3 separate regions of the Homo sapiens genome follow, and regions 1 and 2 are each linked to region 3. Evidence: fine-mapped expression QTL. A gene starts in region 3. Each other region holds a variant in brackets. All regions are shown on one strand. Distances are between the middles of the regions. Region 1 has its middle 22 kb from the start of LINC02104. Region 2 has its middle 8.7 kb from the start of LINC02104. Region 3 holds the start of DAB2 (DAB adaptor protein 2).

Region 1 (11,082 bases), 120 kb after region 3:
CGCTTAAACCCAGGAGGCAGAGGTTGCAGTGAGCTGAGATCACACCACTGCCTGGGTGACAGAGTGAGACTCCGTCTTAAAAAAAAAAAAAAAAAAAAGACTAGCAACCTGCTTGGGCTTTTAATATGAAATTGCCTTGCTCTAAAATAACCTGAATTATGCACTAAACAAGAAACGTGATTTTATTTTACTTCATAACATAAAGAATGAGAATACATAGAACAATATTTAAAATCAATATTGGAAAACTCTTAAATGTCTTCTTTCAATGGTCATAATTACCACTTAAAATAATTCCGATATTTTCCCTAAACTAGGTCATCCTCCTCCCTCTCAAGGACAGAAACCTCCAGCTTCTCAAGGACAGAAACCCTCACTGAAAGAACTTTGTGTTCAATGGCTCTTTAATGGCTTGTTAAATGGTTTCTCCTTCCTATGTCCTTTACATTTATTATGTTATTTAACTTCCCAGCAACCCTATGTTATAACTGAGAAATAGCAAAAGAAAGTAATTGATCCCAGGCAACACAGTGAGCGCGATGATTTAAATTTTGGCTGCTTTACTCCAGAGTCCAGACTTTTAATCACTATCGATCTATTCATTTAATTCTGTTGACTAGTTTTGGAGTACAGTTCCAATGACCTTAGGATAAGAATGACAAAAACAAGCTCTCATCATGACATAAACAAACAAACAAAAACAACACACCATCCTGTAATACAGTTTCACTAACAAGATTCCTTGCACATTCCAGATAATAAGTCAGATGGCTTGAGGGTCAGGTGAGTTATACCCTCCAGCTAACTCCCCCTGCTTTGTCAATATAAATCACAGCTGGATCATTTCTACAACCTGTTCTTAAGGGAAGGAGGCACATTTCAAAAATATTTGAACAGAAAAATCTTTGAATAAGTATGATTGCTTCATTTGATAGGAAAGAATGAAGGAAATTAAATTATGTCACTGGGGGCTTGCATATAACTTAACTTACTTCCATTTAATTTTTTCAAATAATTTATGAAGTAATTATTATTCTCCCCATTTGAAAGATGAGGAGGAAATGGAATCAAAAAGGCTCACTAAATTTCCTAAGACCACAAAAGGCGGAACCAGAATACAGACCCAGTTTTCCTGGTTTTTCAGAATTTATATCTATCATTTTAGAGTGCCAAAAGATTGCTCTGTTGAATGCAAAATAAGGTTTCCAGTTTAACAGATAGATTTGCATTAAGCCATCCACCCTCTTATATTCCAAGATGCTGGCTGTGGTCTTGGAAAAGACACCTTCTCCTGAGGATCTATGTAAGGAAATTGATGTGACAGGCAAGAGAGGACTCAAAGTTTTCTAGCACGGTGTCTGGGGAGATGGTGATGCATTCACTGAAGATGTGATTTACTAGAAAAATTGACTGCAAAAGATTTTAATGAGTCCAATTTGGGACATGTTAAGTTTGAAGTGACTTTGGAACCTATCAATTCTGCTGTCTAGAAGGCAATTGGCGAACAGAGCTCAGGAGTGAAGTCTGGGCTAAATTTAGGCACGCTCAGTGTATAGATGGAGATTTGAGTCTGTGAGTGGGTAAGATTTCTCAGGTTTCATATGTATGAAAAGTCAGGGACCAAAGATAGAATTGTATGAATTGCCAGAGGGCTGGGAGCCGAGGAAGAATACCAGTGAAGGAGGCTGTACAGCAATCAGTGAGATAGGGGACAGTTAGAATGTACTGGTGTTTCTGAAGAAGGACACAGAAGAAACTTTCAAATAAAAGGGAACTATCAACTGTGTGCAATGATAAAGAGAATTTATGGCTGGGCGCAGTGCCTGTAATCCCAGCACTTTGGGAAGCCTAGACACGAGGATCACTTGAGCCCAGTTTGAAACCAGCCTGGGCAACAAAGTGAGACCCCTGTCTCTACAAAAACTCAAAAAATTAGCCAGATGTGATGTCATGCACCTGTGGTCCCAGCTACATTGGAGGCTGAAGCAAGAGGATCGCTTGAGCCCAGGAGGTCAAGACTGAGTGAGTGAAGATCATGCCATTGCACTCCTGCGTGTGCGACAGAGTGAGACACTGTCTCAGAAAAAAGAGAGAATTTAAGTAGGGCGAAAGCTGAAAAGGGGTCACATGATAAAAAAAAATATAGTAAGTCATTTGGAATACTTTGAAAAGAAAAATAATTGTGTTTTATTTATGGAGTTTCTAGACAGTGTTTTCAAATGACAAAGTCAATTTTCCACTGTTAACCAACTCTAGAGATCACGCTAATTTTTCATGTACATCAAGCAATACAATCATACGAAAAAATGAAAGCTTGCTACTAGGTAATTAGGCATATGTCACATCATCATTTGAGCTGAATGGAGTCACCTGGCAAGCTTGATGCATGGAAAGACAGCTTGTATGGCTGAAACAGAGTGAGAAGAGAGGACAGATTTAAGAGATGGCATCAGATAGGACTTTGAGGAGAGAGTGCAGGTCTTGAAAAATGATTGTATGGACTAGGATTTCACTCTGAATGAGATGGGTAACTTAAGGAGATTTGGAGTAGAGGAATGACATGCTGTGACTTATGTTTTCACAGGATCACTCCAGATACACTGTTGAGAAAAAAGTATGGGGCAAGGGGAGATGAAAGCAGACAGACCAGTCTGGAGGCTACTGGGATCCAAAATCGACATAAGAGTTGCTTGGACTAGGGTGGTAACTGCAACTATGGAGATAAGAATTCAGATAGTAGATGTGTTTTGAAGGCAAAGCTCACAGAGAAAATACTAGAAAGAAATTAGAAACTGTGCATACACACATTTGTTTTTCCTAGGGCTTTTTTTTTTCTCTTTCAGTAAAAACCAGCTGATTGGAGATGGAAGCAATGTTGAGATGAATTGTTTTCCACACTGAAAGAAACACAACGTAGTTGGATGATAATGAGAAAACTGTAGTGGTAAGGAAAAACTTAAAACAGGGGCAAATGGCCAGAGCAATGTCCTTGAATAGATAAGAGGGGAAGGGAGCTATGCCAAGGGGAAGGAATGGCCCACTCCTGCTTAGCCCTCTGTACTCTGACCTGATACCTCCCAAACGCTTGAGTAGATCCCTTTTTAATGCTAATAACTCTGAAGGACGATCTATGTTAGTGGTTGTACTCTGAGTACTCACTGATGAAGAAAACACAGAATTATGACTTTTTTTTTTTTTTTTTTTTTTTTGAGATGGAGTTTTGCTCTTGTTGCCCAGGCTGTAGTGCAGTGGTGCGATCTTGGCTCAATGCAACCTCTGCCTCCTGGGTTCAAGCGATTCTCCTGCCTCAGCCTCCTGAGTAGCTGGGATTACAAGGGCCTGCCACTATGCCCAGCTCGACCTCCTGGGTTCAAGCTATCCCCTTGCTTCAGCCTCCAATATAGCTGGGACCACAGGTGCATGACATCACGTCTGGCTAATTTTTTGAGTTTTTGTAGAGACAGGGGTCTCACTTTGTTGCCCAGGCTGGTTTCAAACTGGGCTCAAGTGATCCTCGTGTCTAGGCTTCCCAAAGTGCTGGGATTACAGGCACCGTGCCCAGCCATAAATTCTCTTTATCATTGCACACAATCGATAGTTCCCTTTTATTTGAAAGTTTCTTCTGTGTTCTTCTTCAGAAACACCAGTACATTCTAAATGTCTCCTATCTCATTGATTGCTGTACAGCTATCAATGTATAGATATATAGCTCAGATATATATATATATATACACATATACATATATATATATATATAGAGAGAGAGAGAGAGAGAGAGAGAGCTGGGCATGGTGTTCCATATATACAGATATATATTCGTATTTTTAGTAGAGACGGGGTTTCACCATGTTGGTCAGGCTGGTCTCAAACACTTGACCTCAGGTGATCCACCTGCTTCGGCCTCCCAAAGTGCTGGGATTACAGGCATGAGCCACTGTGCCCAGCCTGACTTTATTATCAATACTAACAAGCATTAAATTACATTTAAGAAAAGTCATGCCATAGGCATTTTGTTATTGCGATTCAGACCATACCCAATGTCTGGTGCATATATAGACGAACATATCCCTTGAAACTCTAAAGATTTACGCCTACAGTTCACAATTTGGAAAGCTTGCTTTAGTAAAACTGCAAAGCCCTTGGTTTTCTGAATATGCCTGGGTTATTTTGTACATGCTGTTTCCTCCAGGAGGCCCTTTCATCTTACCCATCCTTAAGGGCATAGTATAGTTTCTCCTCCACTCAATCACAGTTAGACTTCACATTTTCCTTTGTGTTCCAATAACCATTTATTCTTTCTTTTTTTTTTTATTTTGAGACGGAGTCTCACTCTGTCACCCAGGCTGGAGTGCAGTGGCGTGATCTCGGCTCACTGCAAGCTCCACTTCCCGGGTTCACGCCATTCTCCTGCCTCAGCCTCCCGAGTAGCTGGGACTACAGGCGCCCACCACCACGCCTGGCTAATTTAACCATTTATTCTTGCACTTTGAAATACTCGTACTCCATTTATGTAATAATTGAATATACAACTTAAACCTTTGCACCCTTAAACACTAAATATATGTCATGTGCAAATACATATGTGTATACATATGTTTTCTCTTCTATCGTCTAAGGTTATTTCAGAATGAAACTATGTCGTGTTCATTTTTGTTTTCCAAGAGCGGATAGTTCAGACTAAATGGAACAGAAAAATGTGAGAGATTGGATTTATTTTGTGGTGTTCCAGAGGACAGAATTTAGATTAGTGGGCAAAGTGGAGAACAAGATAGACTTGGCTTAATAAAAGGAAAGACTGAATGACGTTTTGAAATTTTAAAAATGGGATAGACTGTTATTGAAGACAATGAGTAACTGAAACTAGCCAAGTAATTTTTCTCCCTACGACTATTTAAGTTCCTAGCACTATACCAAGTATATAACATATAGTATCACATTTAGTCTTTATAATGTTCTAACAAATAGAGGCATTTTAGTCATCCCGGTTTTACTTGAAATGGTCAAGCAACTTGGCTCAGTATGCAGCTTGTAAATGACAGTGCAGGAATTAGAACTTGAGTCTGGGTAATGTTCGGCTCTAGATATTTAACCTGAATGCCTTACTGTGTAGGAGGGATTCTCACGTTGGGTAGAAAGTAAAAGTTACAAAGGTTGCAAAGGAATATAAAATACTAAAAATATGCAAATGACCTAAGTAGCTTCCTATGCTTTGAGTATAGTTGAGCAGGCCTGCTTTCAACAAAAGAGGGGAGAGATAGGCCCTTGAAAGAGAGAGAAACCAGTCTATAGTGAGGGGCTCAAGATAAAAGTCTTTTAC[T/G]TCTTTTTACCTCCATTTATTCTAAGATCGAAATTATCCTTGATTCAGGATGACAACGGGTCAAAGATCATTGATAACCATATTCTGATGAGATCAACATCCAGTGGGGCTTTGGGTAGCTTCGAAGACTGCTTCAAATGTTGAGAGGACACATGAGCCCTTGGTCACTGGGCATGACTCATAGACTATGTCATTAATATCACCACGATTCTCAGCATATGCCTGAAGTACAGCAAGCACTTTATTAATCTTATCTCCTTTCTCCTGAGTTATCTTTGAGTCCATACATATTCTGAAGTAGTTTTTTATTAGAATTAACATATAAAAGAATCGTTTTTTATTTGATAATGTATTTTCTATGAATATAAGAACTAATACTGTACATTTATATGGTGAGCCACTGATCTAGTTCTTCACAAAAGGAGAATGACATATTTTTGAAAATCTTTTATTCTTGATGTATTTATTCAAGAAAATATACAATTAAGTAGCTATATGGGACTAAGATGTTGAGCAAAAAAAAAAATCCTATATGAACTTTCTCATCATATTTCAAGATGCTTGCTCTTTCAGCAAATAATCTGACTTGACATTGAAAAGCTCGGAGGACTGAGGGAGGTATTACCATCTCATTCTATTGTTTCTGTTAGTTATTTTGATAATCCACTCAGCATAAGTGAAGAAAGCTTTATTCAAGTGAACATCAACTTCACTTTCCATTGAACTGTGACCTTAAAAAACCAATCTCTTAACTTCCTTTGGGGAGACATATGACTGACTGCCTTGTCAGCAAGCTCCTTTTCCTGAATCTAAGTTATTTCCTTTCCTACAGAGAAAAATTGCTGTTATCACTTCCAACTGTTTTAGTAATGGCCCTTTTCATGTACAGTAAATGCTTTTTTTTAAGTGCATGTCTCTTCCTTTTTGCTTATTAGCTCAAAATTTGTTTATCCTAAAGAAAAATGTAAGGATATAAGCACATTTCATGTTCTTTGGAAAAATCAGCATTTACACAGATTTCCGACACAAAAGACAGCTAAGAGTTCTCCAAAAAGTCTATTTTAAAACATACATTTCAAATATCTAAACACAAGAGAAGCATGGTCTAGTTAAATCCAGCATCACCCAAATACTTCCCAATTTCTTTATCTTATGAGTTTTTTTTTTTTCAGTTTTTATTCTATGTGGCTTTTCTCTAACACTTCACACTGGAACTGCTTCAGTCGGGCTGGACATTTCCTCTTTCCTTGGCTTTTGAGACACTGGTCCATCCTGATTTTTTTCTCTTGATATCTTTATCTCCAGCTTCTTCACTACCTCCTCTCCATCCTTTTTCAGTTCTTTAAGTGCTCTGTCCCAAGCTCCCTGCTCCCTTTACATACTCTAACTGGACATTCTCTCGTGCACTCACCTAGCTTCAAGCCTCCTCTATTCACTGATTGTTCCCTCATTTAGCCAGTCTGCTTTGAACTCCAGGCCCAAATGACTCCTGGGAAGCTCCTCCTAGATGTTCTTCATCACCTTAAAGTATTGCATCTCCAAATGAACTCATTCTCTTCTTCTCAGCCAGTTCTTCCTGTGTTTCCTATCTCAGCAAGAATATCTGCATATCTTACACGTCCAGACACCAAAGCTTAAAATCCCTTAGTCATTCTCAATTTAATTCTACTATTAAAGATTTCTCATCTCTGTTCCTTCTCTTCCTTCCTCATTGTTATATACTGAGTTCATGCACTCACCAGCTCTCCAGATCATGTCGTCTCCCAACTCCCTAGTTGCTCATCTATTTCATATTGATATTGAGACTTACTGTTAAAATGGTATTCCATGCATCATTATTTCACTTTAAAACCTTTAACAATTCTCCATTTTATATACAGAAAAATTCCAAACTCCTTAACCGGTTTGGAATTTCCCATTTTCAATTGGAATTTTCACTCCTTACCAGTTAAGGAGCTTGGAATTTGAATCAATTGATTTGGTGAGGCCCAGCCCTCACTATATTCTCACCACCCCGCTGACAGAGGCATAGGCATTAACTGCCTCACAATCTTTGTATCTTTTTGTCTTTGCTCATGCCATTATTATCTCTACTTGATATTATTTCCTCTATTTTTTTTTCCTGCCCGATGATCGATGCCATTCATTTTTTAAGAGCCCTTTCAAATGCCATCTCTTCTTTAAGTCTACCTTGCCTTCTCCAGCTTTGTATGTTCTCCCTCTGCCCTGACTGCCCTCAGCCCCTACCTTCACACTGGCATCCACAGTCCTGGATTTTAAATACTATACAGTAGGAAATGGCATTTAGAGAGCAGGGAATACATTTTCTTCTTCTCTGAATTATAAGAGTCTATCATTTTGTTCAACTTGTGGTAGGCATTTAGTTCTTATTTGCTAAATATGTTGAATTAATGGATGATGATGAAAAAATCTTAACAGCGGCCCAACTGAGGCCAAATACCTATTCTAAATATCCGTATGTTATCTGTATTTTTTTTTTTTTCTTCCAAGGAACTTTGTTTACCTTCCACATGTAAGAAGCTCTTAGTGGGACTTCTGAGGTTGGTAATTAGGACCAAGGCTGAGGACAGGAAAGTATTTAATATCTGAACTGACAGTCACCAGAGTCAGAGCCAAAGCTTCTTAAGAGGTGATGGATGCAGCAAACTGCTGCCAGCCTCCGTCTTCTATATAATAAGACTGGGAACAAGACAGAGAGGAGCAGATCCAAGGGTCATTAGAATGCGGTGCGTTTGAGATAAGAGGAAATTCCCTGCCTTCCCCAAGGGAGGGAAGGGAAATTAGAGTACCTGGTCTTTCTTCCTAAAACCTCCTGAGAGGCTCTAAGAGACTCATTTACAAAGGCTGTCATATAATTTAGTTACCTAATTGGACATCTGCTGAGGAAAAGGACTTGTGGATTTACCTCTTCATCATAGGAGCAGGGGAGAACAGTCTTGGAGAGAGAAGAGATGTAGGGGTAGTGTGGATTCACCCAGTTTCAGAGCCAAGACAGGTGATGCCTGAGGTTCAAGTGGATGCTACTTTGAATGTAGCTGGGCTTGTTCAACCTCCTTTCCAAGACAGATTCCCGGCAACACGAGGCCATGCACTATATGGCCAGCAGTGAGAGCTCAGGGGCTTGAAAAAGTTGGCTTAAAATCACTGAAGCTCCAAAAACTCATACCTTTATTCCCCAGAGCTAGAATTTGAAGGCCTGCCTTGCAGATGATATCAACAGCTAGGCTGTGCTGGCCAGAAAAACAGCAGGAACCAAGAGGGAAAGGTTATGATAGCAGCCTGCTAGCATTACACTCTTTCCTTTCCCTGTTCTACCTCTCAGCTCGATACCATGAAGAGGAATACAACAAGGGGAATGCAAGGTGATGGTGTACCTGAGGCAGACTCCTAATTAGAGAGGGTGCCCGTTCCTACTTGCACTGGGTAAAGTGGAAGAGGAAAGAAGGGGAGAATAAACTAATGTTTGATGTTTTAAATTGGACTAAGCCTTAATATCAGAAAGCAACTGGAAACTATGGAGCTACCTTAGATGCCAGAGGAGAATGAAGTGTTGGTATAAAATAATTGGAAAAGAATGATTTAGAAATACAAAGCCTTCTTATTTCTGATTAAGTTAATACTGCTTAATAAATGAGATGTTTATGTAAAATTATTGAAATTCATTGAACGTCTGCAAAGAAAGAACAATTTCAACCCCAGACTACTATCAATGCAAACCTTCCATTACTGATTTATTGCTGGATCCGACAGGTAATATCTCATTCACTACATCTCTAATGAAGTCTCTGGAGATCAGGGTCCCCTTGGAGGACACACAGAATGCACAGTCTTATTCTAATTAAAAAGAGTTCATTGTGTAAAGAAGAAACAAACATGTTAGCCCCAAGAGACATGTTAGCCCTGCTTGGGCCACAGTTCAGAATGAGTACCTAGCCAGTTACAAGATGCTTCAGAACTTTCTGTATCCAGTGACAGCCCAGCTGATAAGTATATCAGAAAGGATATTACTGTAAGCTAGTCATATTTGAAAATAGCTGATATGTTAGCTCTTTTTTATTGAGAGCAGATATACAAAGTATTTCATGATGCTATAGGATATTAACAATTATTTCTCTCAAAACTCTTCTGAGGGAAGACTCGGCTATTATTGAATGAGTTCTGTTGAATTCTCTCTGTTCCCTCAATTCTTCTACCTCCACTGCATAAATATATATTGCATACTGGCCAAGTGCAATGACTCACACCTGTAATCCCAGTACTGGGAGGCCGAGATGGGCAGATCACCGGAGGTCAAGAGTTCGAGACCAGCCTGTCCAACACGGTGAAATCCCGTCTCTACTAATAATACAAAAATGAGCCTGGCATGGTGGCAGGCACCTGTAATCTCAGTTACTCAGGAGGCTGAAGCAGGAGAATCGCTTGAACCTGGGAGGCGGAGGTTGCAGTGAGCCAAAATTGTGCCATTGCACTCCATCCTGGGCAACAGAGTGAGACTCCATCTCAAAAAAAAAAAAAAAAAAAAGACGTATATTGCATACTGTATTCTTTGCTTGCTGACTCTGTTACTGCCAGCCCTCTATCAGTTTCAGTCTATTTTCTGGACAATTTATTGCCTTCTCATATCCTTTTCCCCATAATATCTCTGAGAATCTGAAATGCTTTGCTGTAATGAAACTCCTTAGCCCATATAATATCAGCCTTTAAGGTGATTGTATTGCTTATACACCTGGTCTGAGAGATCATTGATTTTCAAATTCTTCCTTGAAAATCGTCTCTTCTGTTCTTGAATCCCCTATGTCCCAATCAATTCCCCATGAAGTCCATCTTTTCCAGGACTCAATTCACCTGAACTTCAGCATTCTCTTTGGCCAGCCTTCCCTGGAAGTCTACTTAGGGGGCATAGTTGACAATAATGTATATACAGCAGCCACAGAAATGTCTATGAGAGATATCAATATTTTTCAGATTTTAACTTCTGAAGTTCCTACAGGTAAGTGTTTTGTTGATGCTAGAAGAAAACAAGTTATAAGAGGTGTGTGAGCTTGATAATTGCTTAAGATGTTAATAGTCATTTAATCCTTAACTTGGTGGGAATCACATTGTGTGGCTGTAATGTAGGACTTCAAAACAAACCATCAGAAGTGTAAAGACTGGTTTTAATAAGCAGAGAGTTTGGCCTGCCTACTTTCCTCCCCCTCAATTTTTAAATGGGCCCAAGCAATTTGAAAACCAGAATGTACTAAACAGATAAGTTGATGTTTGTGAAACAGATATGTTGATGGCAGCATCAACATATCTTATGTGGTAAAGGGAGCTAAGTTTTTATGAGGCTATTATAATGGCTCTTTTATATACCCTGGAAATCCCATTTTAGACAACCATTTCCATCAGAGACTTCGGGATTGCAATAGGTAGTATGAGATATGTTACATTACGTGGTGATCGAAGTATCATGAAATACTCTTATGCTCTGCAGGCTTTTTATACAAATATGGCATGTATACAGGCAACTTATACAAATATCTAAGGCTTTTTCCTTCTGATTAAAAATTGTTTACTCTGGAATTTAACATTTATTTAATAACGTTTTAAAATAACACGAAGGGGTTTGCGTTAAAATAAGACGTATAAAAGCTGCTAGTATCTGTCAATATTTCATTCTTTAAGTATTCCCTGGTCCCGAAAATGAAATGTTGAGAACGTTGACAATTTCATTTCACAGGAAGAAACCACATAGTTTCTTT
Region 2 (11,082 bases), 86 kb after region 3:
TTCTCTCCTGTTTACAGTAAAATAGTAATGAAGGGAAATTGTAGATGAATATTACCCAAGGAACAACTTTTCTCGGAAACATAAGTTCATACAAATAAATTGGCCTTAAGGCAAGTTAAGAAGCAAAGAAAAGTTCCTATATGGGACAAAAGGAAATTTGTTGTCAGTTCTGGCTGCACGGCTGGATCCACCTCATCTGCTGGGCGGAGGCTGCTCTGTAACTTGTTCTCCATTGGCTGCAGGCTTGGATGGTTCATCCCTGCAAGCTTCTCACATGGCGTTCCAGAGTCTCTCCTATAACAAATCATCAGGACACCACCATGACCTCAGGACAGCTGTGTGAAGCAGGCCAGAGACGGAGACTGCAAACCAATGTAGCAAGCCAGCTATATAGGATAGACACAGATTTTGGAAGTCATTCCTACTGATTTACCTTGTTTTGAGTAGCTCTGAATGTTGATATTATACTCTTAATCTGAACTTTACAGCAGAGGTTCCTCCATGGTTTTAGTTTGAGCTTAGCTGGCCCTCCATCAGCTGCATAGAAGCCCTCTCTCAGCAGTCCTAGTGTGCTGAACAAATGTGTTTTACCTCCAACTCTTCTTCTTCCTTTCCTTCACTTTCCCCCAAACTTCTCTTCAACTCCTCATCTGTGTTTGTTCTCATAATGGTTATTTACCTGTGCTCCTTTGATTCTGTGTAAAAAGCACTGCTATTGCATTTCTTGCCTTTCTTAGAGTTGTGCCTATGAAACTCTTCCCCCTGTTCGGTGGCCCATCCTGCCTGTCACTACCTGGACTTTTCTGATGGCAGAGACTACGCCTCAGACACCCAAGCACTCTTGCATAATGTTTGGCAAGGATGGCCCCATCTATCCTAATCTGGAGGCAACAGAGGGACAATTCAGATTTCCTCACAAACGTTTCTTGGTGATGTACCACTGGCATTTCACATCAAACCAAACTTCACTTCTTAATGAGGGGAAAACACCATGTGCAGGGCAGTATGCAAAGAGCATTGTCATAGCTCCTGACCTCAGTGACCTTGCAATCCAGTGAGAGCGGTGGGGCACAGACTTATGGAAGGATATATAATAACTCTAGGCAAGGCTGTGGTGGGTAAGTGCATAAAACTCAAAGTCAAGAGACCCAAAGACTAGTCTCCTCTCTACCAGGAACAAGGTGTCTAAACCCAATTTCCAGGGCTCAATTCTCTATTAGTAAATTGAAGGGAATAAGCTAGATCAGTGTTTCTCAAAGCATGAGATGTGATTTTTTTTTTAAGGTAACACATAGACCCTGAATTAAATAAGATTAAATCACATGGTAAGAAAGTTATTTCCTTTTAAATTCTCTTTCTGGTCACAAAGGGATGCAGCCACTAGCTGTTTCAGACTCAGGGTCTTTGCATACTGTAGAAGCTATGACTGATAAATAATGCTTTTTAAAAATTGTATTCATTTTCACACAATATTTTGTTAGTACTATTTCATTTATGCAAATTTATTTTTAATATATTTTAGCAAAATAAATGAGTTGATTTAAAGAAATATATCAAGAAAATCATAGACCATGTTATGTGAATATAATAAAAATTATGAATGTTGTGCTAAAAATGTGAAGCTTAAGAAATAAGTCAACTCTGAGGTTCTTTACAGTCTCAAATGTCTTTGATTTTTGTAATATTTCCGAGGGAATAGTGTGGCTAGTAGGAGAAAAATTAACATATCAAGACAACGTACTGACAACTCAATATGTCAAATTATCCATTAAGAAATTATCTGTGATATAGGTAGAAAGAGAGAGAGAGACAGATGATGATATAAAGATATATATATATTTATATGGTGTATAGAGAAGTATATAGATACGGATAATGTCTGCAAATATAATTATCTGTGATACAGAAAAAAATGGGAGATCTGTTTCCAGCTTCCTCTTAAGGGAAAAGATGAACCTTTGAATTCATGAGTCGGGATTTCTCTTGACTCAGGGGAAAAGTCATTTTTTCTTCATTTTTCTAAGTGTTAACCTCTAGAGGTGTTAAAACTGCCCTCTCTAACATGGAAAAGGTTCCTGAGGCTTTAAAGAGGAGTGGTCTCACTACAGGAAGGTGGACAGATGATGGGGACTAGAGAAAGAGAGAGCTGCTATTCTCCCAAATGTAGTAGACCCTCAGGTAGGGTGACTGTACTGAAAAAAAACAAGGATTAAGAGCAAGGGCTCCCATGATTCCAGTGACTCCCCACCCTCCACAATGGCCTGGGTAAGCATCTGGGCAATGACCATGGAGTGAGAGCCATGGGCAAAAGATACATAACTAATTACACCTGAGACATAACATTTTAAGAGTCAAGTGGACGATTTATTCCACATCCAGCACTTGGAAATGACATGACCACATACACTAATGAAATGCTATGAGCATATCCTGTGATTATTATCATCCTCATCTTGTGAATACAAATTTCACTAAACCCAACCTAGGATTGGATTTTCATGGTTTAGGTCATTTCTGTTTTGATATCCAAAAGTATTGTTCACATTTTTTTGAATGTGTCATATAAGTGTTCTTTTTAATTATAAATAATTACTTTTGAAAAGTTTCCCCATAGCATTTTGCAGACTGCCATGTATGTAACACCTATTTGTGGGAAAAAAAAATGGATGGATGGATACTGAATAAATTGTTTATAGTCAGATTTTCTCTACAGTCAAAATTTTCCACCCCATTAAAAACTTAAGGAAGCTTTTCCTCTGTTGCTTGGCTTCCAGTTCTGTGAAGTGGAAAACCATGATGAATATGGCAGTTTATTGCACCATATTATGTAATTAGTCCACCTCTAAGAAAAGAGACTTTTTGAAATGTGGTATCATCTTCATACATACAACTGGAATGTAGTGTGTGTGAGTTAGAGACTATAGCAGGAGAAAAAACCCTGGAATAGAGTCTAGCCATGAGCAAAAGGTTAACGGGCTCTTCGACCTCACTGGGCACTAATCTTTAGCCTTCCTCTATTTTTGAGGATGCCACAGGAATATTTAGAGCCTCCAAGAAGAATCCACAATTCTTTCCAACAAAGTTCTAGTTAAAGGCACATTTTGATGAAATGGATTCATATATCCAGCTCCTGCCTGGTTTCTATTAAATATTCCAGTCTTTCCTGTGAAAAATGGGGAGTGATTTCATGCTTTCATTATTCAAACTGATCTGGTTTCACAGCGTACTCCATGGCTATAGTCAGTTCAAAAAGAAGGAATATTTTGTTTTCTTGATTTTGCATGCAGTTCAGAAACCTGCTGGCTGCTGGACTCACAGTGGTGGCCATTCTAAGGGAGGCTTGATGGCAGGAACAGGTGACAACAGAAGCTCAAAGATTATTTGTCTATACTGAGCATGTTGTACTTTACCTCAGTTCTCCCATTTAGTCAAATGAATTTTATTCAGTTGAGAACACTTGCTTTAAAGGCCTCAGATGCAATATCTTTATGTTCCTACAACATCTGCAATTGCATTATAAGGAGTAATTTAAATGAAATATGGACAATGTCATCAACCGTTCCAATTTTCTGCCCCATTTCCATCCACTGTCACCTGGAACCTTATGCCCTAAGGTTGCCAACCCAATCTTGGCTCCTTGTTTTTCCTTCACAGCTCTTCTAGTTGGGGTTTCCTCCAGATTAATGGACACCAAAAGATTATTACTTCATTCTGACTAAAAACTAGAACTAAGAATAGAGAAAGGTTATAAACTCTTTCAGAATGAGAGAATTCTGGATTCTTCCTGCAGAAAACAACATTCGCATAATATCCTTAGAGAATGCATGAAATGAGCCTATTTAAGCTACAGTTTGCACATCAGTAAAATGGAAATAATAATACTTTTCTCATGGGACTGTTTTGAGAATGAAAGAGAGCACACAGACACCACATGTGGTGTGATATGTCCTTTATAAAGGAAAGTTGCTAATTTTTTTTAAAATGATAGTTTTCAAAACAATACTTTCTGTGTGTTCTATTAAACCTACTGTATTAGTCTGTTCTCATGCTGCTAATAAAGACATACCTGAGACTGGGTAATTTACAAAGGAAAGAGGTTTAATGGACTCAGAGTTCCACATGGCTGGGGAGGCCTCAAAATCATGGCAGAAGGCAAAGGAGGAGAAATGTCATATCTTACATGGTGGCAGGCAAGAGGGCGTGGGCAGGGGAACTGCTTTTTATAAAACCACCAGATCTTGTGAGACTTATACACTATCATGAGAACAGCATGAGAAAAACCCACCCTCATAATTCAATTATGTCCCAGTGGGTCCCTCCCATGACACATGGGGATTATGGGAGCTACAATTCAAGACAAGGCTTGGGTGGGGACACAGCCAAACCATATTACGTACCCTATTGTGTACTTCCTGACAAATCATTTGAAGACTCTTTGTGAAAGAAAAGCAAAAATCAAACATGATTCCTTCAAAGGTACTGTAGGTCAGATGGATGAATCACAGGCAAATGTGTCTGAGAAAAGGAAAGGCCAACGATGAAAGGTGAGAGAAAAAGATTCTAATGCAGGTTTCATTGCTTCTCCTGGGTCTATTTTAATGGTCTTCAAATAAGTTTTGCACGGTCAGTTTATCTTCCTGCTTCAGCCCTTCCTGGTTATTTCTGCTAGATGAACAGTTTTGCCACACTATGACAATTCCTTGTTCAGAAACCTTCAATGATCTCCTGTCTGAATTACATCCTAACCCACATGATCAGGTTACAAATTCCTTTAAAATCTCGAGAACACATGGACACAGGGAGGGGAACATCACACACCGGGGCCTGACGGGGGTGGAGGACCAGGGGAGGGATAGCATTAGGGGAAATACCTAATGTGGGTGACAGGTTGATGGGTGCAGCAAACCACCATGGCACATGTATACCTATGTAACAAAACTGCACATTTTGCACATGTACCCCAGAACTTAAAGTATAATTTAAAAAAAGAAAATAATTCCTTTAAAACCTCATCTCTCCTAGTTCTTCTTCATACACTCCAGCCACATTGGACATGTTTTATACTTATTGCATGTCTTATTCTTTTCCTGCCCTGGGACTTTTTGTATGTGGCTTGCCTCTCTGTAGATCTCTGTAGAAGACAAATTCAAAATATGATCCTTTTCCTAATATTCTTCCATGATCCTTCCAGTAAGAAGAACTCTGTGGGACTTTTGAATTTCCACATTCTTTTAATGCATATCTGTAATGACACTTAACCTGATCTATACTATAGTGTGCTTATTTTTCTGAGTTTTATCTAACAGATTAATAGCTACTTAAGGTACCAATGACATTTCAATTCTACTCCATGCAAGACCTAACACATTGCTGGAGTTCAGTAAATGTTTGCTGAATAGATGAATAAAGGACAGTGCTGTTATTAAAATTTCTTAGTGGGGTTGAGAGGCACGATAAAGGCCTCAGAATAAATAGCAATGAAATATAGGTAGAGCTAGTGCCAAATAGGAGTGTAAGCAATGGTTCAAAATTTCAGAGGAGAAATAATGAAATTGACAGGGAGATTTAGTCTTGGCCACTGAAAGTTTTAGTGGTCTCTCACAGGACATTAACATCTGAGAGCAATTCCAAGACCTTCTCATTCCCCACAAAGTAAATTAAAGCCAAATAGGAAAATGATCTTGTTCCATATACTAAAATGTTTTGTATTTTTCTATATGTAAATAGAGTTGTGTAAAATAGACAAATTTTTCCCCCATAGGACAAAGAAGCATTCTAAAACTCACATGAAGAACCCATAGGCTATCTTTGC[T/C]GAAGATAAGCTCCCTCTTTTGGACTATGATTTAGGTTACAAAATCTCCAAATTCTATTTCATGAGAAGAAATCAGTAGCAATGGCTTAAGGCTTAATAGTTTTGAAAAAGCAATAACATGATGACGTTTGAATGAATTATAAACATATGGATTAAATTTTTCCTTACGGAAATAATATGAAAATAATGAGGGTTCTTTTTTCTACATATCTGGATTTTACTGAAACTTTAAAAAAACCAACCCAAGAACTGAATAAATAAACCCATAAGACACTGAGCAGGAATGCTCTTATTTGCAATTATCATGTGTTGATTTGGGATTATAATGGAGTTAGGAAGATCTGTGAAAGGGAAAACACATCCTCCCTATCATAGCTTAGGTCCAACACCAAGTATTAGAAACCCAGATATAGACATTGTTCACTCCCACGGAATTGGGAGCTTAGAATTCATCTTTTGTCAGTGGTGGTTCCCATCCACAGTATCTCTGAAGATACATCCAACAAACTTCTGTAACTGTGAGGCAGGTTGAAACAGAGCATAGGATGCGCTAACTGAAAGCAAAAAATACTCACTGACCCCTGCAGAGAGAGCACAGCACAGTAGTCCTGCCCAGTACTTGTCTGGTTTTCACACTGAAAGTCCCATATCCCAAACAACCCTCAGTCCTCAGTGATCTGGGACAACTGGTCACCCTACCCCCAGTCAAGGATACACTTCAATGTGTATCCTCAGCACCTGCAGATCTTGTTAAAATACAAATTTGCATTTAGTTTGTCTATGTGAGTCCTAGGATTGTGCATTTCTAACAAGTTCTCAGATGATGCCATGCTACTGGTCCACAGACCACACTTTAAGTATCAGGGTTTAGAGTGTGCCTTGTGGACTCAGAGGTAGACTGAGACCCAGCTTCACCATTTACTAATTTTGTGTCCTTGGTCAAGCGACTTAACTTCACTAAACCTCAATTTCCTCATCTCTAATAGAGAGTACTAATAGTACCTTCCTCTCAAGATTGTTGTGAGGATTAATTGAGGTAATTCTGGGCACAGAATAAGCACTAAAGAAGTATTGATTACTTTTTTTATCATTGGAATTTGTATCATGTGTAATCTTCCAATAGATGGCTGAGACTGAAAATACAAATAAGTTGAGGAAGGTTTCAGGTAAATTCATGGTTGAAGGATTCATAAGCACTGATGTTTTCAAGGTGAATTAGAATGTTTGAGGCAGAGGCATTTTATCGGGTTGAGGGGGAATTAAGTCTGACTCAGCTGTATCATAAAGTTTATGTTCACTATAAAATACTAGTTTTTTATACTGTGTGCTATACAATCTACCTCCCTATTTTGAGTTCCCTAGAACACAAAAGGAAGATAGAAATATAAGTGTGTGTTGTCCCAGCTGCTGGAACAATAGGCCTTTTGCAGAAGTTTAAATATCTGACTCATAAAGAGGGAATTAGATCCACTGATAAGTTATGCCCAAGTCCCACCCTCAGTTCCAGTTGGCCTTTATGACCCACACTGCCGCTATGTGAACTTGCAGAAGTTATATAACATCATCTTTAAGCTTCAGCCTCCTTACTGCAAACAGAAATGATAATACCTACTTCATAGACTCATAAGAGAATCAAATATAAAGTGCCAATACAGGGCTGGCCTATGTTAAGTGCTCAATAAATACTGGCTAGTGTTCTAATTATCCTGTTGGTATAGTAATAGAACTATTTCTGTTTAACATTCATTTAGAATGGAGAGCCACTAGATTGATTATATCTTGGTTGTGCTGGTTCTTGAAATGTGATAATAGCTTAGACCTTCACCTTCAGATTTCCCCTGACCACATGGTGAGGAGCCATTAAATGTTAATTCCCTGTAACTTTTGTGACCTTTAAACCCATCTTCATTCTTCTTCACTGGAGCAGAGCTAGAGTTTGATTATTTTGCCTATAAATAATAACCACTGTTTAGCCAATGAGCTGTGTTTGAAGCTTGTCAGTGGCTAATTTGACATGTTGTATTTCTAGAGATGAAAACTTGGGTTTGAAAAGGGAAAACTCACCAAAATCAATGTTAGGGAACAGCAATTCCTGGTGGCCAGGGAAGACAAAAGAAAGTTCTAGGTTGGAAAGATGTGAAACAGTGATGGTTATGTCAGCAGTTAGGACAACACATATTTATATTTCAATCCTCCCTTTATGGGCAAGACACTTTTTCTAGCCCCAGGCTTCATCTCTGATGCTGCATTTGAAGGAAGGGTAAAAAACTTTAATCCCAGGTCCAAGAAACAACGCTATCATCCAGTTAGAAACTTTGCAAGCCCTTTGGTTTGCCACTTGTCTCAGAATAAATAAATAAATAAAAGTCACTCACAAACCTTTCTTTGGATTTACTTGACCAAACTCATGAATGCTATCTTACTTCTCATGCCTGGATGCCCTCACTGGATATAGAACCAGGTTAGAAGCTCAAGCCTCTTCAAAGGGTATTGGGAGAATAAATGCTATAATGTCCACGTGACTCCAACAAAGCTTAGCTCATAGAAAGCATTTGATGAATATTCATTGTCTTCCTCTCTTCCCCTATGTTTGACACCTTAATGTGTGTATACCTGTTCCAAACATTAATGTCTATTGTCTACTCCACTTTTGAGATATCGACAAAGTCTAACATCTCACTGTAGATGTTCATGACTGATATGGAACACCTTGAATTTCTGTGTCATTTAGATCCACTATTAAACGCTGGATACCGTAGGCCCCACAATAAAATTACCCTGGGTAATTACATCGCTACCATTAGCCCCATTAGCCCTATTGTATTTCAAAAATCCATTTCACAGTTTGGCAAAAAAAAAAAAAAAAAAAAAAAAAAGTAGGGTCCTAGTTTTGAAATCCCTTCAAAAACTCATGAATTTACCTGAAAGCGTCTTTGACTTATTTGTGTTTTTAATCTCAAACACCTTTTACAAGATTACTTCACTGATACACACTATGAATTCCAATAATTATGAAAGCAGTTAATACTTCCTTAGTGCTTATTCTGTGCCCCAAATTATCTCAATTAATCCTCCCAACAATCCTTTGAGGAAGATACTATTATGACTCTCTATTACAGATGAGGAAATTGAGGCTCAATGAGTTTAAGTCACTTGAACAGAGACACAAAATTGGTAAATGGTGAAGCAAGCACTCCATCCTGATATAAAGCCCTTGCGCTGTAACCCCATGGAAGACTTCAGTAGGTAATTGCCATAGCCTTTCACAGGTTTAAAATAGGTGAATCTGCTACAATTACGACCTGAGAACTGAGATCTGCACTCATATTTACTCCAACCCCCTCTAAATCTTTGCTCCAAACTCCTCTAAATATTTATTCCAAACCCCTTTGCAAAGTAAGCATACACATTTAGTCTTTATTTTTCATATTTTAGGACTACTAAAATATGAAAATGCATTGAAAATGAAGCCCATGTTGTTGGAAGCGTGGATCAATAAGGATTATTTGGTCTTGGCTAAAGGTTTAGTAAAATGTACTTAGATAATAATAATTAAATGAATGACTTAATTTGTTTTTCTTTCAAGCTTTATTCTTTATAAGAATTCAGTTTTCTTCACACACAGCAAACATATGTGATCCTGTGTTTTTATTTATAGAAAGAGCAAAAGCCAGGAAAATTAGGTAATTTGAATTTTAGTTAGAATCCTGTCTTTTTGATCTAAGTGATTATGTGAAAGTGGCTTGCTTTGAGTTTATCTTCATTTCTGTAATGATGGTTTGGACTGGTAAACTTCAATGGCACTTTCCAATTCTGAAATTTCATAATCCTGTGAAAACTCTTCATTTTTAATCTAAAATGATACAGTTGATATTTCTGCTGTCTAATGTGCCTCATTTATAGAAATGTATAGAAATTATTCCTGAGAATATATATGTCATTGCTCACTATACTAGAAAGCAGCATTCCTTATGGTAGATCACAAAGTTCTCATAATTGAGTAGGTAGTGACTTAAAAGCTTGGGCAATTCAGCTAGAAAGCTAAACAGCCGTCAATAACCGAACATAATTACTTCTAAAAACAGGGAAGGAAGTTGAGCATGAAATTCTAACTAAATAAGCATTTTATGATTTCTTCCCTCACTGACAGGCCACTGGGTACATTCCCTGTTCTGGGTTTAAAAAAAAATCCATTGGTATTTTTCTTAGAAAATGAAATATCAGATACAAGCAGCGATTTTCTAAATACGTAACAAAAGATATGTTATGAGCTCCCACCAATCAGAATAGAGGCCAAACACAAATAATTTCTACCCTGAACATAAGCCTTAAGAAACTAAACCAAAGAAAACACAACTTAAAAGTACTTTCCCTCCCCCTACCCTCAAATGAGAATGTATATTTTTAATCCTTTAAAATACAAATATGTTTGTCTCCAATTTATTTTATTTTTTTTTGAGATGAGGTCTTGCTTTGTCGCCCAGGCTGGAGTACGGTGGCACGATCTTGGCTCACTGCCACCTCCAACTCTTGGGTTCAGGAGAGTCTCCTGTCTTAGCCTCCCAAGTAGCTGGGACTACAGGCCAGTGCCACCACATCTGACTAATTTTTGTATTTTTAGTAGAGACAGGGTTTCACCATGTTGGCCAGGCTGGTCTTGAACTCCTGACCTCAAGTGATCCACCTAGCTTGGCCTCCCAAAGTGTCGGGATTACAGGCATGAGCCACCGTGCCTGGCCAGTCTCCAATTTTGAAAGAAATAATTAAATAGGGAAGCATCCACCTGATCCTTGCCCTACTTCTTATTCCATCGTATCCCACCAGGCCACCAGGTCCATCCACACAGGCCTTCTTTACATTTATTGTAAACAATACACACATGCCCACCTCCATCCAGAATGCCTCTTCAGATCATGAACAACAGCTTCCTCTTCAGATCATGAACAACAGCTTCCTTTTCATCATTCAGTATCAAGAGAGTGTCATATCACCTCCTTGAACAGGTTATCTCTGGCCATTAATGTTGCCAACACCTTGTTAACTCAAAACCTTACTCTGTTTTATTTTCTTTTTAACATTTAGTGACATTTGAAACTATTTTCTATTTACATTCAGTACTTGTTTATTTTCTGTCCACCCTACTAGGATTTCCATAGCTCAGGGAACTTGGACTATCTTGTACATGCCCAACCAATAGTAGTCCATCAATTAATATTTTCATAATAATTTTAGTGCTAATAACAAACCTAGTAATTTATGGTCACCTACTA
Region 3 (11,082 bases):
ACTGAAGGAATTCAAATACTTTGTTATGATTTCCACTGAAGAAGTGAATCCTAAAACCACTGAATTATGAAAGTTACTCTTGGATCACGTGGTGGAGAGCTAGTTTAGATACAGCTGGATGGGCCCTACTTCCAGAGTTTGCAGTTCTGACAGGTCCCCAGCTGATGTTGATGCTGCTGGTTTGGGAATCAGCTCTGAGAACTATTGTCTTAGATGAGTTCCCTCAAGCTGTGAAATACACATCAAGCTAAATGTCCAATTTTGAAAGACTGAATTAATTTGTCAAATGCAAACTTGTGTATGGCAGCTCATCTTTCATATAAAGATCAAAGTCTTTTTGGGACTAACATTTTGCATCATATTGCTAGGTAGCAATAGGGTAGTTTTTTACCAAGAGACAACATTAAACCATATTTCCCTCATCCAGATTTCTTCTAGGTTGAAAGGTGCTTCAAATCCAGCATTCTAGGATTGTTACTTCCTATTTACCTGCTCCCTTTACTCTATGGTTACCTGAAAATCTAAGTGACAGCCCTCATACATTGTTTACCTTCAACGTAACACTCACTCAGCCTGCCCCATTCACTTAGAATTTTTACCAGTTGACTTAGTTAAAAATCACTTGCCCCTAGCTAGCTAGTACAAATGTAGTAGGGAAAACTTGCCAGGCTGCTTCTATATTGAGGTAGTAACTTTTAGGTTCCAGAAATTTCATAAGCTTTCATGTTTTGCTATCTAGATGATGCAAGAACTAGGAAGGTTAGAAAATTAAGTATTGGGATTAAAATAAGTTTGGAGGGGGTGATATAAGTAGAGAGGAGATTCTACTTCACTTAGTAACTTCCATTTTTAGACCAGGAAGCAATTTGTTCAGATTCTACTTCCCCTAGAGAGGCAGGCTTCCTTCCAGGGTAGAAGGATGCGGGAAGGGGAGTAACCATGGCAACCTGCCCAGCTATGTGGGCAAGGATAGTATGGGGCCTGCACACACTCGGAAGAATTTTTATTTCTAGCCTAGTCATTCAGTTTAATCCGGGTGGTCCCTCCCTTCCCACTTCCTTCTGTGACAATGCTGACTTCAGGGGGAAGGATTGCTCCTTCTCTGTCAGGAGTCTGAGAGGGTGTGGGGAGGACTTAATTGAGACCAGCGAGGTCAGCCTGACCAAACCAAAGTGCAGGCTTCCAGGACGAAAACAGAGAGTAACTCCCTGTCTGTTCTAGCATGAGCACAAGCAAACGCACTGGCTTTATTAAAATCAAGTGCTTGAATAATTAACCTTTTTCAAGTAGGTGAAGGGTATTCAATTTTCATGAAGAAATTTTCCATTTGCTTTCAGTTTTCACAAAGACACTTAATTCAGTTGTTCAGGGGGGAGTAATAACAAACAAACAAAACCTTCAAAATCAGATGGGAAAAAGTATTCCAAGTATATTAGATTAGCTGTCTTCCCAGCAATCCTGGGGTAGGTACTATTATTCTCCCCAGATAAGCAAGCTGAAGTACAGAGAGGTTATGGAATGTGCCCAAGGCCATGTAACCTGCAACCCTGTAGCTAAGATTTGAACCCAGGAAATGGTACTTCAGAAGGTAGTTCTCAACTACTATCCAATTGTGCCCTGTTGGAGGCAGCCAGTGTTGAATGTTAGCCCTCTGTGTCCGTACCAGTCATCATTTGTTCCCCTAACCAGGAATTTGCTTGTTTTCTGTCTTTAAGTAAAGACTGAGGAGTCTGCTTTCCTTCTGATTTCCACCAGTTAATCCAGTCAGGATATGCTGATATTATGAGTTGGGTCTCCTTTAAAGACACATATCTGGTGTTAAATCTGATTCATCTGGCCGGGTGTGGTGGGCTCATGCCTGTAATTCCAGCACTTTGGGAGGCCGAGGTGGGTGGATCACTTGAGGTCAGGAGTTCGAGACCAGCCTGGCCAACATGGTGAAACCCCGTCTCTACTACTACTACAAAAAAAAAAAAAAAATATTATCCAGGTATGGTGGCGGGTACCTCTAATCCCAACTAATCAGGAGACTGAGGTCACAGAATCTCTTGAACCCAGGAGGCAGAGGCTGCAGTGGGTCAAGTTCATGCCAGTGTACTCCAGCATGGGCAACAGAGGGAGACTCTGTCTCAAACAAAACAAAACAAAACAAAACAAAAATCTGTTTCACCTAAATATGATTTTGGCCAACCTTTGTGCAATTCAGCGGCACAGCTTCAACTTTGGAATTACATAGCAGTGCCAGGGAGAATTTTAAAATACCACATCCTGTTACTCAGGTGTTTCATATTGCCAATCTGGTTCCCATTCTGGTTCTGTCTAAAGGGTAAAAAACCTTATGTGTTTGGTTAGTTACCTAAACCTTCCTGGCCAGTAAGCTTTCGAATCTTTCCAGCTGGGGAGGTATGTTCTGATGAGCATTAGGACAACTTCAAACCCCAGGAGGGCTCACTCTCAGCAGCTTTCCCAAGCATTTCAGCATCTTGGCTTTGTCTTTAAGAAGAGCAATAATTAAATCCTCAGGTCAAAAGAATGAGGAAGAGAAACACGCAGAGCCTTCAAAATTATCCAGATGAAATATCAGTGGTAGCAAACTTAGGTTTATGGACATATGAGGGTAGAGTTAGAAATGAAGCAGCATAAGAGCCTATGTCACAGCAAAGCCTCCTGCTTGGCCAGGAGCACTCAGCAAGGAAGATATCTTCCTGCTCCCTTAACCTTCAGATAATCGAGGCCTGGTTGAGCAGGCCAGTAAATATCATCCCCAAACAGCTGGTCAGCAGCTGCCAGAGGTCCCTGTACTACCTTCATGCCAACAAGTGCCTTAAAAGCCGTACCCTTCAACCCAAACAAGGCCAGTGAAATCCATTCAACCTTTGGAGAAAGACAACAAACAGGCCTAATGCACAGGAATTTGGACTTCCAGTTTAATCTGAAACTATAAAAGTCTTTAGCAGAAACACAAACTCTGGAGTTTGCCCTTCACAAATTAGACAAGGTTTGTAACAAGTGCTTTCTTCCCTCACTTACATCCTCAGGTAAAGATCAACCATCAAGATCAAAGATCCCCAGAATGGCAAATACATACGTGTATGGGCTCAAAGTTGGAAGACATTCCTCTACCATCTACTTATTCTGGTTATACATTAAAGCATAGGAGGGCATAGCTGAAAAATGACTGGTTTCTAGGTCAGTCATTTGGATGAGAAGGGATCCTTCCAGCTGGGAGTGGGAAAAGAAGGGGGAAGTTATTCACCAACAACAGGAAAAAGAATTTAGTTGGCCTTAGGAGGAAACTGACTAAGGATTTGGAAGAAGTGGTCTGTCCCAGAAATCCACATTGGCAAAGACCACTAGGTCTTCTTCATGCTTTCTCTAGAAGACTTTCCCATTGTACTCAAATACTCCCGAATTCTCAAGGCAATAAACTTTCTTACAGTGTCACTGAGGGCCATCTCCCTTCCAAGAGGGGAGACACAGAACCTGGAGTGGGCGGGGCACCTGGCTCAGAGAAAAGTAGCCTCCCAAAGTCTGGCTGCTGGGGTAAGAAGCATGGTGACAAGCCATTTGGTAGCTGCAAGCTCCCTCCTCCCCAACAGCCAGTAGGTGCTTTTGTGTGAGAAGCCAACCTCAAGACTGTAAGGACAATCAAGTATACATCTCATCAAAGCCATTCCAAGAGGCTTATCAGACATCTCAAAGGCATTTTTTGTAGATGCCTGCTTTCCACTCCCATTACTTCTGTTTGCATTAGTTATATCTTACCTCCTTCTCCCCCATGCCCCTGCTTTGCCTGACTAAGGCCAGAAATTTTTTCATGAAGTCACTTTATAGAGCAATAGCAACATTTACTATTCGTGAAGTCGCCCCTCCATAATTTTTAAGTCTTTCCATGTGTCTGGAAGCTTGTTTCTGCTCTTCTCGGTTTACAGAGCGGCTCTCTTCCTTCCAAACAAAAACTAAAAAGAAAGGGGAAAAGGTGGGGGGTGGTTGGGGTGGAGATAACACCCAGATTCCTTAAGTGTTTTTAATCCAGTTGAATTTCCCTTTGGACTCAGCTCCCTGCTGAAACTGTCTGCGGACCAGAATTCCAGGCTCAGAATTAAGTCAAGAGGGAAAGACAGCAGAAACAAATAACAGAGTCAGCTCTATGCTATGAAAACCGCTATGTTGACTGAGGCTCCACGGTTTTAACCCATTCATTTTTCCCCCCTTTTTTAGAATTCTTACTTAATCTTTTTAACCAGCTTACAACAGGCAGGCAAGCACCATATAAACCATGCTCCCTGCGCCGGGGGATATAAAACAAGTTTCTTAAGTCCCTTGGGTAGATACTTCCTTAGGAATGCCGGTGTAAGACAAAAGTTCACATTTTAATGCCATATGTTGTCAGTCACCAGGAAAAAGCTCCTTATGGGCACAAGCCAGGTCCCCAGCCTTTGTCACACAGCAAAAATAAACACCCTTCGAGGAGTTAATTAGGCGGTCAGCAGCCACCTCAGTGTCCTAGGAGGGCTGCCCGCAGACCTTTTACACACACACACACACACACACACACACACACACACACACACACACACACACGACACAAAAGGAGGCGTTTGTTAAATGTCACAAGCTGGGCATCTGGAGTCGGATTCGAAAGGTAAATACATTCCGCGGAAGCATTCCTCAGATGTCAGGCCACAAAACTGCTGGTTTCCCCAAGCACAGGGTCTCATTTCTAAGATTCCCCACAGCCCAAGGTCTGTACTCAAAGAAGGGTAGCGGGGGGCGGGGGGGTGAGAGAGGGGGAGCAAAGGAGAGAAGGAGATCTTTAAAAAAAAAATGGAGCCAGAGGGAAGAAGGGTTTCGAAGCTACTCACCGGCTAGCTATTGCCTCCGTGAAGCGAGCATGACTTCCCCGCGCCCGGAGCCTCCAGGCTACAGCGCAGCGGATGCGGCGGGCCTCGCTTAAATAGCCGCCGGCCGGGAGCTTCGGAGCCGCGCGGCCACTCCCGGCGAGAGATATGGTTCTAATCAGATGCTGGCAGCTGAGGACTCCCCAGGAATGTGCCAGGATGTTTTTGCTGCCTGGGCTTGGTAACTCCCCCTCAACGTGTCTGCAGAGTCTTCCAAACTTAACTGTTTATTAACTCGCGCTGCAGCGGCGCAGAGGACCCCGCTCCCCTGAGCTCCGCGAGCCCCACCAGCTGGGGGCGATCGCAGGGACCCAGCGACGGGAGGGGAAATGTGTTCGGGGAGAAGTCAAAAGCCCCAGACCGACGCGGGCGGGGGGCGGGTGCAAATAAGGACAGGAAAGGGAAGCTCTGGAGGAAAGGGGTGGGATCCACCGAGCTTCGTTTCACAGATCCGTTCCCTGGATTGCCACTGCGAGTGATGTGGCACACGGAGTCATCCTAACCAACCCGTTGGGGCCCTTTGAACAAAGGACTGCCTTTACTCCTGACTTTTCTGACAAGGGACAACGGTTCCTGCGCAGATCTGCAGTTTCTAAAGTTGATCGCGCGATTGGATTTGCTCCCCTTAGAAGAAATTAGTGTCTCCCTCATTGCAGATGCAAATGCGCTTAAGTTAGTGGGAAATCTATGTGTGCATATGTGAAACATACTGTATTTACCTATGAAATATAATCATATATATGGATATAAAAATAATATTCTCTCTGAAATCGATATGAGCAAAACATGTTCACGTCTATGTAGCCTATCAAATAAGTTATAATTCTGATACAATCAGAGATTCTATACAGGCTTCCCTTACAGTGTATATACACCTATATGTAGACACATAACATGACTTTATCTGCATGAATTTCCATAGCACTTCCTATAACTCTAGGAAAAACATGAACTGCAAGAAATAAAATATTTAAAAATGTTAACGTAGAGTGCTGAGCGGTAGAAGGTACTCCGCAGCAAATCCTAATGAGTGTTAACAAGCTGAGAATTCATTTTCTCCATATTTTAAAATCAAGAATTATTGTAAAACATCCACAGAAGCTCTGTTGCTTTTTGGAGAATTCTGAAATTACTCTTGTGAAAGACGTGTCTCTTTTCCCTTTTTTTAAGAAAAAAATTTAATTGTTTAAAGTCAGAGGCAGCACGTAGTAAATGTGAAAATGCTAAATTGTATCTCGGATGGGAGGGGGTTATTGATTTTATCGAGTAAGCAACACAGTGGATTTGCATTTTACCTCTGGAAACTGAGGGTTCAAATAGGGCTCGTGGGACATCAAGGATATATTTTGTGGTCCGTGCCTAGCCTCGACTGCAAAGCCACTGTGTAATTTGGGGTAGCTCAATGTGAGTGGCAATGTCTGCTCTCAAGTAGGTCAGGCTTGAAACAACCGTTGTTCGGGGAGACTGAGGGGTGCAGAGCAGCACAGCTGGCCCAGAATTCTACTTCCCCAGCCTCTACTATTTCTCATCCCCTGACACACCTAGGGGTGTGGAGGCAGGGAGGGCCATGCTGGCAGTTTTCAATATTCCTCAGAGGTAATTTGCTATTTTAAAAAATGACTTTGTGTGAATGACAGGAAGTATACAAATTTTAGTCCTAGGATAGTATTCTATTTATAACATTTATGCAGAGAAATGTAATTCTAGTACATTTTAGAACACAAGGCTTTGTTTCTAAAATCTAGAAGTCCAGTTTCATTTCTATTGGCTAGGTAGCTGGAAAAAGGGCTGCTGACTTCAGGCAAATAGAGACTTTGATAATTAGAAAGACATGGGTGTCTCTTTTAACCTCAATATGTAATATTTTCTAGACTAAGAAGTGCTCACTCAATTCTATTTTTTTTTTTTTTGAAAGACTCTTACCAAGAAATACTAACTTATGTTTGCTCTACCCCACCAAATGGAAGGGATTTGTCTAAGAAGCCAGAGGAAGAAAATGATTTCATCTGCTATGAGTTGTAGTTTCAAGAGAAGACTTTGATGAAAACAGTTCATTTAAGAGCAGTGGGCTCACACTTACAACTTAAAATAGACACCTCTTATTTTGCACAGAAATCTGAAGAGTCGACAGTGGAGAATTCTGGTTTGAACTGTATTTTTATATCTCTAGGGCACCGATATTGCTTCTGGCAGTAATTCAATGTCCTGCTCACATTAAGAAAAAAAAAGAAAAGAAATTTAACTCTTTTTATCCCTCGTGAAACATTGTCTCTGTCTCATCTAAGTTGTTCACTTTTCAACAAGTCTAAAATGAACATCTTTCCCTCTGGAGAATCACGCCAAAGCCCACCCAGATATTTACCCTGCCTAAATAATGGTCTTTTCTTATCACCACTGAAATTTATGTTTAGAAAATTAAGGGGAGGAAAAGTCAGTTCAATGTTTGAAAAACAATAGTCTTTGAATGGCAATTGTCCGTTGCAGAAAACCTGCCTGTGAGAGAGAAGGAAAAAATAAAATAAAACAAATGACTGTGCTCCCAGCCTAGGAAAGGGGTAGTTAATCCCGTGATGGCTTGCTGAAGAATGCATGGTTTATTATTAAAGTAATCTCTTAAGATTTTCCTGGAATGTGCTTCCACAGCAACTCTGCCTGTTCGACCTATCCTATGCATGTGTCTTTTCTTCCATAATTAAGCTGTTTTCCTCTGTTAGCTCACAGACCTAATCCTTTATCCTTTCTCTCCTCCTTCTCCATCACTTCTTCTATCCCCCTCTCTACTGCTCTTGTCTTCCTTAAACTGCCCCTTTTGAAGCCTGTCATTTCTCCTGAATTGTAAATGGCACTTTGGAACTGGCTGTAAGGTAAACTGCCTGTGTGCCTTTGATGCCTTGCTGGACACTTAGAGATGTTAAAATCAAACAAGGATTTGTTGAAGTGGACCTAGTAAGGTCACATCTCTCTCTCTCTCCTTTTTTTTTTTTCCTTCTCCATGTCATTAAAAAAACAATGAAGAGAATGGCTATTGTTCCCAGAAAATGTTCTTTGACCTTGACCAGTCCTGCATATTTAACATTACAGAAAAACTGACCCTACCAGATTTGGTGGCTGGCAAGTCAAAACAAATACTGGAGGTTTTTTTTCATATCTCTGTCTATCCATCTACCTGTCCATCTTCTGATCTAAAATATTTGGAAGATAGTTTCATAGAAGGCAGCCTGTTTGTGTTTTGTTTTCTTGCTTATACCCCTATAGCATCTCAGAACTAATATGTATTTTTCTGTTTTGTGCAATTTTAATGAAACTCAGGTGGTAGACTACTAGGGTACTTGGAAAAATTGGTACTTGTAAAATGAAGAACATTTAAAATTCAATAATATAAATGTATATAACTAATTACACCTCACTTATCAATATAAATTTTTATAATGAGAAATTGTGAAAGGCAAGTAAATACCCATAAAAATTACCATTCAAATAAATACTGTCTTACTTGGAAAGAAACCTAGCAGGAGTTATCAAAAATGAAAATACATAAAACCCTGCAGGAATTACTAATATTAATTGTTATTGTAGCAAACACATACACTTCTCTATCCTAGGAGTAAGAATCTATCCACTAGAAATAAAGCACATGTATAATATGCAAGGATTTTTTTTTTTTTATTTTTCTGAGATGGAGTCTTGCTCTGTGGCCCAGGCTAGAGTGCAGTGGCAAGATCTCGGCTCAGTGCAACCTCCGCCTCCCGGGTTCAAGCAATTCTCTGCCTCAGCCTCCCGAGTAGCTGGGATTACAGGTGCCCACCACCATGCCCAGTTAATTTTTGTATTTGTATTTTTAGTAGAGACGGGGTTTCACCATCTTAGCCAGGCTGGTCTCATGATCCACCCGCCTCGGCCTCCCAAATTGCCGGGATTACAGGCATGAGCCACCACTCCCTGCCCCCAAGGTTGTTAATTGTATCATTTATAGCAGCAGGAAGCTAGGACAAAATATGCCTGTCAATGGAGAATGACTGAGTATGTTATGACTTATCCATACTGTGAAGTCATATGTAACCATTCAAAGGAATAAATTAGAGTCAAATTTTGTGACATGGGAATATTCCTTTAGGTTTTTTTGAGTGAGAAAAGCAAGGTACAGAAAAGCATGGAAAAGATGTTTCTATTTTAGTAATATAAAAAGCAACACCTATTTATATATATTTGGGTATATATGTTTGTGGGTATATATGAAGGATTATCAAGGAGGTTGCAGTACAGATTACTAGGGGCCTGGTGGAGACAAGGGCAGAGAAAAGGGGTGGGAGCCATGCAAAAAGGAAAAAACTGAAAATAGTCTTTATGCAGGTATAGGTCACATTTATGCATTGAAGTGAAATGATATACACGCAGGTTTGTGGGTTTTTTTTCAAAAAGATTATATCATTTTAAGATAAGGAAAGGAAGAAAGGAAATCCTACGAATAGTTTTCATGGAGGTCTACCTTTAGGCTTTTCAAAAGTGAGTATTCATCAGTATGCTCATTGCTTAATTCAGCCTCCAGAGCAATAGTTCTCAAATTGTAGTATTTACGACAGTCATCCCGGAAGTTGGCTACTAGAGTAAATTCCTGGGCTCAGCCTCAGAGACTTCTCTGGAAAGGTCTGTGGTGGGGGTACCAGGGAATCTGTTTTTTGTTTTTTGTTTTTTGTTTTTTTTTTTTGAGACGGAGTCTCGCTCTGTCACCAGGCTGGAGTGCAGTCACGCGATCTCGGCTCACTCAAGCTCTGCCTCCCGGGTTCACGCCATTCTCCTGCCTCAGCCTCCCGAGTAGCTGGGACTGCAGGCACCCGCCACCACGCCCAGCTAATTTTTTGTATTTTTAGTAGATACGGGGTTTCACCGTGTTAGCCAGGATGGTCTTGATTTCCTGACCTCGTCATCTGCCCGCCTCGGCCTCCCAAAGTGCTGGAATTACAGGCGTGAGCCACCGCCGCCCGCCCGGAATCTGTGTTTTAATCAGCACTTCCAGGTCATTCTGATGCAGTGGTCTTGGGGACCACACTTTCAGAGATGCTGCTTTTCTCCTGAGAGAAATGGTGAAACCGCGTCTCTATTAAAAAAAACACACACAAAAATTAGCCAGGCGTGGTGGCGCACACCTATAGTCCCAGCCACTCAGGAGGCTGAGGCAGAAGAATTGCTTGAACCCAGGAGGCGGAGGTTGCAGTGAGTGGAAATCGCACCAATGCACTCCAGCCTGGGGTGACAGAGCAAGACTCCGTCTCAAAAAAAAATAAAAATAAAAATAAAAATAAAAAGACAAAGAAAACAGGTCTAACCATTCACAGACATTCGATTCGGTCCCTAAACACTTCTGCTCCATTCCAACCATGCGCATGTGATGTGCTTAGGTTTCTGGACTGATTGAATAGCCTCAGTTTTAAAATGGAATGGTCACTTGTGAATGAAGAAGGAATACCATTTGCTGTACTCGTTTAATGCTCATGCTCAAGGTCACGTCTTCATTAGAGAATGGAGGGAAGCTGTGTCTGGACTCCAGGATGATTTAACTCCCTAATGAGTGTGAAGCACATGTACATGCACACGCTTCACACAAGCGTCTGTGTGCCTGTTCGTATATGCATTTTCTGGAGAGGTGCACTATAGATTTCCCTGGATGATCAAAGGACCCCATAGCATAAAACAAGGTTAAATTCCATTGCATTGTGGTTTTATGGCCATTCCACATTCTTTCTATTTTTTTTAATCTGAGGATTTTATCTAATCTTTTGTACCAATCTTATACTTATCCTCACAACATCATTGACAAACGGGTTAGGCAAGTAGTCCTGTTTCTAAAGGTTAAGAAATGTTGGTGCAGGAACCTTGATTTACTTCTGTTCAGAGTGAGAGACAGAACTAGAACTACTACCCAAGTCTTCTGAAAGATCTAGAACTGCACAGGTCACACAGCCTGACTTAACCATAATTATAGTGGCTAGTGACAACTCTTCGGGTTCACTGTACCCTGCAGTGGTCTGTCCACACCAGGAAAAGCGTTTTCTGTTATGCATACTCTTTCATGAGAAAGACACTGACAAATGGAAGTGTGTCCAGAGCAGGACCACTTGGACAGTGAGGGGACCCTTCTGGGAATCAGAACTGCTGAGGGCTCCCAATGTGGCCTGACTGAAAT

Evidence for each region. PIP is the estimated chance that this variant, and not a neighbour inherited with it, causes the effect. A credible set is the group of variants that fine-mapping cannot tell apart.
Region 1: its variant is the best candidate, but not a certain one, in a credible set for the expression of DAB2 in whole blood (INTERVAL, PIP 0.71).
Region 2: its variant is the best candidate, but not a certain one, in a credible set for the expression of DAB2 in monocytes (TOPMed, PIP 0.54).

Annotation. Positions count from the first base shown.
Region 1 is chr5:39,536,642-39,547,723 of GRCh38, forward strand. No RefSeq gene overlaps it. Among named protein-coding and RNA genes, the nearest start is that of LINC02104, 22 kb to the left of the region's middle. The variant T/G (reference allele first, on the strand shown) is at 5,318.
Region 2 is chr5:39,506,177-39,517,258 of GRCh38, forward strand. No RefSeq gene overlaps it. Among named protein-coding and RNA genes, the nearest start is that of LINC02104, 8.7 kb to the right of the region's middle. The variant T/C (reference allele first, on the strand shown) is at 5,813.
Region 3 is chr5:39,419,939-39,431,020 of GRCh38, forward strand. DAB2 (DAB adaptor protein 2) reads right to left here and starts at 5,042. Exons shown (of 15, transcript NM_001343.4): 1 at 4,866-5,042.